2 linked regions of the Homo sapiens genome follow. The protein of the gene in region 2 purifies or fractionates together with the protein of the main gene of each other region. This does not show direct contact. Each region holds a gene or a part of one and is shown on either strand. Other genes may lie near its edges.

The links.
Region 1: the proteins of GDF11 (region 2) and IGDCC4 purify together in Homo sapiens (affinity purification with mass spectrometry; one large-scale study listed by BioGRID and IntAct). This does not show direct contact.

What each region holds. Positions count from the first base shown.
Region 1 is NC_000015.10:65,412,948-65,416,447, forward strand, and holds part of IGDCC4 (immunoglobulin superfamily DCC subclass member 4 precursor), read right to left. Parts: intron 2,904-3,500; exon of another isoform or gene 2,381-2,903; intron 1-2,380.
Region 2 is NC_000012.12:55,749,622-55,753,121, reverse strand, and holds part of GDF11 (growth/differentiation factor 11 preproprotein), read right to left. Parts: coding exon 3,240-3,500; 3' UTR 1-3,239. UniProt on the Homo sapiens protein: Secreted signal that acts globally to regulate anterior/posterior axial patterning during development. May play critical roles in patterning both mesodermal and neural tissues. It is required for proper vertebral patterning and orofacial development.

The DNA.
Region 1 (3,500 bases), on a different chromosome or scaffold from region 2:
CACACACACACACACACACAGGCTAGAAAAATACCATATCCAAGAAACATTTAAAATGTATTATAAGTGTGAGAAAATGTGTGTGTGTGTGTGTGTGTGTGTGTGTGTGTGTGAATACTATATATTTTGAATGAACAAAACAAAAATAAGTCCCAGCTGTTTGGGGGAGCCACCTGGATGAAGGAAAGTCAGACATTCCCCCTTCCCCAACAATGAACTAAGTGAGCAGATCCTGCTGGGAATTGTTAAGTGCCCCAGGTAGGGACTAGACTCAAGCTGGATTCAGACCCAGCATGAGAGGAGGCTCACATGGCTCATTCCAGGCCCTGGCAGCCCACAGCCTGGTCTGTACTGGTGACTGGAGAAGCTCAACACTCCCTGCAGCTAATTTCCCCAAGGCCATGCAGGAGGCCAGAGCCAGGACTCAGGTCTCCTGACTCAATCCAGGGTTCTTTTTTCTCCCAAGGCCCCAGAGGAACCTACAGACCCCAACACTGCCCTTGCCACAAAGGGAAGAGTAGGGAAACAGTAGAGGAAGGGAATGCCATCCCAGGGTCAAGGCAAAAACACACAAAAGCCAATGTTTATTATTGGAACCAATGTTCTGCAGGGCCCAGCCACCATTATTCATAGACAAATGGTTGGTTCTCCCTGTTGTGTCTTCCAGAAGGTTGACCTGCTGCCTCCTTGTCTTATAAAAGCTCAATGGCCCAAGGTCCCTTCTTAGGCTCTGGTCTGACTCCTTACTTTAAGGCAGAATGGCATGTCTGAGAGGAACCAGGGCCAGAGGTCAGGACAATGGCCCATACTCATCACAAGGCAGGTCTGGGCTGACAGAGCCACGTGGGGACGTGCACAAAACAATGGCGAGGGAATCAGGAGACCCTCGGTTCTAGATCCAGCTCCATCACAGTCTAGCCATGTGGTTTTGGCCCAGTCATTTCCCCTTCTGGGCCCCAGCTCACTGGAATGTAGCAGGTGACCTCTGAGATGCTATGATTCTATGATTATTCACGACATGGACACACCTATTCCTGAACAAACATAAAACACCATTGAGACCACACACAAATTGGTAAACATAGCTCTGCACTCCTAAACACATGCGCCTCAGTCTCTGCCACACTCATCAACACTTGGACACACAGGTCAACATTTAGAAGCCCTGTGAGTCTCCAGACTCCCTTCCCACCAGCTCCAAAGAGGAACAAGAGTGAGGGGAGAAGAGCAGTGATGGCTGCGTGAAATAAGGAGGCCAGGGCCTGGGATTGCAGTGTGAAGGGCGGACGGAGAGACAGGACCTGACCTGGGCTGCTGCCTTTCTTAATTCATCAGATGGTTTCTGCTGGACACCTCTGGCTTCACAACTAGTCTCAGCAGTACTCGCGGGCTCAGCAGGGAGAAGCAGCCCCTGCCCTCACCAAGTTTGCATTCTAGTTGGGGAAACCAATCTGGCATTCACACTACTGCGGGCCACGTGCTGTGGTGGAAACAGCTTTTGACCTTGGGGAAGAAGATCAAGGTTTCAGTCTTGCTGCTCCACCTACCAGCTCTGTGACAAGCCACTTAACTTTTCTGGGACTCAGTTTCCACATGAAGATGATACCACTAAGCGTGAAGGAATTAAACAAGACAATGTATGTCAGGGCTACAGCCCAGAGCCTAATAGACATCACTCAAGGAATGGGAGCTTATTCTTTGTTTGTTTGTTCTTGCGACAGTTGTGCTCTGTTGCCCAGGCTGGAGTACAGTGACATGATCTCAGCTCACTGCAACCTCCACCTCCTGGGTTCATATGATTCTCCAGCCTCAGCCTCCTATGTAGCTGGGATTACAGGCATGCGCCATCACACCTGACTAATTTTTGTATTCTTAGTAGAGACAGGGTTTCACCATTTTGGCCAGGCTGGTCTTGAACTGCTGACCTCAAGTGATCTGCCTGCCTTGGCTCTGGAAGATCACGCCTTGGCTCTGGAAGATCCAGTGCTCTGGAAGAGCACATCCAAAGTGCTGGAATTACAGGCATGAGCTACCATGCCCGGCGGGGAGCTTATTCTTTAAAGGCACTTTGTAACTATAAAGGGCTGTACAAGTGCTATTTGCTGTTCTTATCATCCAGTCCCTTCTATCTCTAAGGCCCTAGATGCCATGATTCAAGTACAGGGTAGGAGGAAGGCAAGCCCGGCTCTCAGTCCAGTGGCTTCCAAATGCCCATTCCAGCCACTAAGCAGTAGGTTTGGGTTTCAGGGGAGAAAACCCCCAAAGGACACAAATCCCTGAGCCCTCCGGCAGCCTCCCTGCCCCCTAAAGCATGTCCCAGGCTTGGAAAATCCCCTGCTGCGTTGAACAAACAATGTGAACAGTTGGGGCCCGAGCAGCTGCTGGGTATGTCAGCAGCCTGGGCTCTGGCAGGCAGGACGGCCGCCAGAGGGGCTGGCGGCTGGCTGGGGAGCCCAGAGGAGGCTCCGATTCCCTTCCTGAATATTCATGGATCAGCAGATGTCTGGCTTCCCCACCTCTGAGGAGCTCAGCAAGGCAGGAACAGGGAAAGCAACAGGAACGTAGACACAGAGAGAAGACGGGGTCCCCCTCAGAGAGCAGCAGTGCTGTGCCAGGAGCCCAAGACAGCCCATTTTAGTGGAAACGTCTGTGAAGCCTGAGAATCCTCATTCCACAGATGGGGAAACTGAGGCCTGGGGAGGGGTCTCATCTCTGTGGAAGACAGTCTGGGAAAACTGCCCTTCTTTGACTTTTTGGGGATGAACCAGCATTGAGGAGACAACTGCTCCTGAATAAGAGGGTTCTCTCTGCCTCTGTGCTCAACCTGATTTCTGTGCCCAGGAAGCGCATCCTTAGGGACTCACGTGCCAGCCCTTCTGTGAGGCTGCTCCTACCTTCCCCAGGTAAAGTTTTTCCTAAGTCTCACACTGAAAACCACTTGCAGGTCCCTTACTCTTGCCTAGACAGACAAGGGGGTGTGGTGGGACAAGCCTGGCCTCAGAGTCCTGGGTTCTAAGTCCAGTCATTCATTGCATGACCTTGTGTGAGCTACTTTTGTCCTTTCAGCCTCAGTTTCCCCAATTTTAAAATGAGAAGTCTCCAAACTTCTCAAACGTTTTCACCCAAATTCTCTCAACAGCAGAGGAACACATATTTACGAGGCTCGCTGACTGCCTAAAATGTTTTGACTTTTTTTTTTTTTTTTTTTTTTTTTGAGACTCGCTCTGTCACCCAGGCTGGAGTGTAGTGGCGCAATCTCGGCTCACTGCAAGCTCCGCCTCCCGGGTTCGAGACATTCTCCTGCCTCAGCCTCCCGAGTAGCTGGGACTGCAGGCGCCCGCCACCATACCCAGCTAATTTTTTGTATTTTTAGTAGAGACGGGGTTTCACCGTGTTAGCCAGGATGGTCTCAATCTCCTGACTTCGTGATCCGCCCGCCTCGGCCTTCCAAAGTGCTGGGATTACAGGCATGAGCCACCGCGCCCGGCCAAACCTCTAGC
Region 2 (3,500 bases):
TTGGCTCAAGCTTTTCAGAGAGGGGTTGTTCTAGGTACCCCCAGTTTCCTGTCCTCTTTCCATCCTTCCTTGGCCTGCATGTCCCAAACCTTATACCACCATGCCCTTAGTGTTTTCTGTCTTGCTCCAGGACCCCATCTTCTTAGTCATTGAACACGAGGTTTCCTGTCTCAGATCCTCTTCACCTCCGGTTCTCCAAGGTGTAAATGTGGCACTTGATTAGGGAGAAGAGCTCAGCACTGAATTCTAAACTCTTTGACCGCTTTTATTTTTTTTTTCAGGTTCAAGTGCTGGATTGTGTCATGTGACCATCCCAAAACTCAGAGCACCCTATGGCCGTCTTTGCCCTCTGTCACATAACTTGAAAACTGCCTGATGGCCTTTTTGCAGTGGTTCCCTCCAGGAAGCCTTGATCTCAGTTGAAGAAGTTCTTTCCTGGCATTCCAATGCCCCTGTCAGCTCCATACTCCTCAGACACCCTTAACAAAGGCTGTCATGCACACAATGTGACAAATACACAAAATAAATGATAATTACACTAATAATGATATGTTCAGAGGGGCACTGGCCAGGTCCACACACATCATAAGGTGGGAGGGGGTGCTAACTCCCACTGGGTTGCTGAGCTGTGCCCCCCAAGTCCCTTCACTCTGTGCCTCTTTGGGGGTAGGGAGGAACAGGGGAATGAGACTTCAGCTCACAGATTTATGTTCATAAGAGAAAGACCCCTGCCCCCCCCCCACCCACCACACACACACAAAGGTCTTTATTTGGTGGTATTTAAGGAGCTGTATTCTAAGTGTCCCCCATATTTAATGCCCCAGCTCTCTAGAATCTGTAGAGGGAAGATACCTGATGCTTATTGCCCAATCCCTACTCTGCCAAGATCACGAGGCATTTGACCTTGGAGGGAGGTATCTGTTCTTCACTTCTCTGTTCCTTTCCTTCCACCAAGGAAATGTGAGTGGTGTTGATGGCCGGGTGTGTCTTGTCCTTCAGGATTGGGGCAGAAGGAAGGATGAAGAACAGGGCCAGAGAGGCTTGGGGTTAGCATAGCTGCTATATGGGTGAAGGCAAGCTGAAGAGCCTAACAGCCCTGCCCATTCCTCTACTGAAAGATCTTGTTTCACTTTCTCACTATAAGAATAGGAATAAGATGTTAAAGCTCACCAACATCACCTTCTCAAGGGTGGTCACATACCTTTGCCCCTTCCACCAACTGGCCAAGGGGGAGAGTCATGCTCTTGGGAAGAATGAGCCATCCAGTTTTGCTCACCAGCTTGGGCTTTACTTTAGTTCAGTACTGTTTTTATCAGACCCGTAACTGCTGGCTCTACTTAGAGTGACAGTTTTGCTGAAGATTCTTACCCCCACCTCTCCTGACATCCTCTAAGCTCTTGCCTGGAGCCAAGAGGCCTGGTGGTGAAGTAAGGATAGGGTGTGGATCAGGAGATTCTCAACTCCTTGGCTTCTAGGCACTGTCCAGCTGGGAGGCAGAGGGGAACTTGTACTCTGAAGCCTGTGACTCCTCTTAAGCCTCACATCTCTTCACCACTACTCTGGTGCCCTGGTTATCTGTCCCACAGCGAGAGGTATTTTATGTCCATAAAGTGCCCGTGGTAAGTGCTCAGAATTCATCTCTTGGCTGTGGCGGGTGCTGTCATTTCTCATTCCATTGAGGGGAAGAAACTGAGGCACAGTGAGTCCAGAGGAGAATGGGTCAGGGTTGTGGGAGGAATGAATGGGCCTAGCTAGTGACTTGAAATGGCAACCAGTCTCTGCCTGCTTCCTAGCCTTCCAAGCCCGGGAGTCTCCATCCTTCCCATCCTCTGTTCTAACTGGCCTTGTCAGATGCTTTTCCCCACTGTACTTTCCCCTCCCTGCTGCCAGGTACTGTTAGATTCCAAAAATAAAAGGAAAAAATAATTATACACTCTGCTTCCTTGTTCTCCCCTCTTCCACCCTGAGCTTTGGGGTTAGGAGACTAAAATGTCCCCCTTCCAGAATCCTTCCCACCTTGGTCTGCTGGCTCTATTCCCTAGCCCAGAGCAGTGATTTGGATTCAAATGCCCTGTAACCTTCAGCCTCCTTACTGCTCCTTTCTTGACCTCTCCTAACGCTTTCCAGACCCAGGGGACTCTGGGGTCTCTATACTCTCTCTAATTGACCTGAAGATAGAGGCTGGGAGCAGGGCCATTCCAGAGGCTCTTTGGTCTCTCTCTTGGCTGAGGGAATTTGGGCATAAGCAGGCTGCACCCTCTGGCTAAATAACTCAGCATCATGAGGGTGGACCTGAGGGTTTAAAGTAGCTCTCATTATATAGATCCTGGATGTTGAGGGTTCTCTCTCCCACCCCCGCATCCCCAGCTCTTAAACCCTAACCTCTTACTATTTCCATGACAACTGGCTTCAATTCAAGCCATTTGGCTCAGAAAAGGTTGAGTTAGGGTGATGATGGGTTAGAAACTAAACTTCATGTGTCCGCCCTCTTGCCCTTTACTCCCATTCCCAACCCTGGAGGCTTTATACAAGTGCTTAAGTGAGTAGGTGTTGGGGAGAGCAGGGTTTGGGGAATAAGGGATAAACGGGGCACAGTGGGCAGGGGCCCTCCTATTCCAGTAAAGCCAAATACCAAAAAAATGAAAAGTCACAATAAATAAATAAATAAAAATTCCCAAATCTTTTTGCCCCTGCCCTCACTTCCCCTTCCCCTGGCCACTGTTGGAGGGAGAGAAGGAGAAAAGAATGGATTTTTGATTTCTTCTCCTACTGAATAGTCAGGGGATCTCCCCAAACTATACCAAGCCCCTCACCTTGCCAGTGGAAGAAAGGAGGCTTGGTGTGGGGCTTTCATTTATTACTCCATTTCAGTCTCTTTCTCAGTGTTTTGTCTCTGCCTCGTCTGTCTCTTCTGCCTCTCTCTTTGCCTTCTCACTGCTGCTCTTTTTGTTCCTCTGTCTCTATCACTGTCTCTACATCTCTCTGTCTTTTTGTCAAACCTTCTCATCTGCAAACTTCAAACACTCCCCACCCTGACTATGCCCCTGCTTCCCCTTTCCCCCAAACCCCTCACCCTCAATTCCCACCTGCCTCCCTCTGTTGTATTGCACACGGCTTGGTCGGGGAACGGTGTGATGTTCGCGGGAAGAGTGGAGGGAGCTCTAGGGCTTGGGGGGATGGGGGCAGGGCTAGGGGTCTTGGGGTAGGGTCTGTGGGGGAGGCATCCTCTATCCCCCACCTTAAGAGCAGCCACAGCGATCCACCACCATGCCAGGGATCTTGCCGTAGATAATCTGCTGCTTGTCATTGAAGTAGAGCATGTTGATTGGGGACATCTTGGTGGGGGTACAACAGGGCCCAGCAGAGCCTCTTGGATTGGCCTGCTGCACCAAATGGGTATGCGGATATTTTTGCATGAACATGTACTCGCACTGGCCGGAGCAGTAGTTGGCCTTGTAGCGCTTAGGTGCGATGATCCAGTCCCAGCCGAAAGCCTCAAA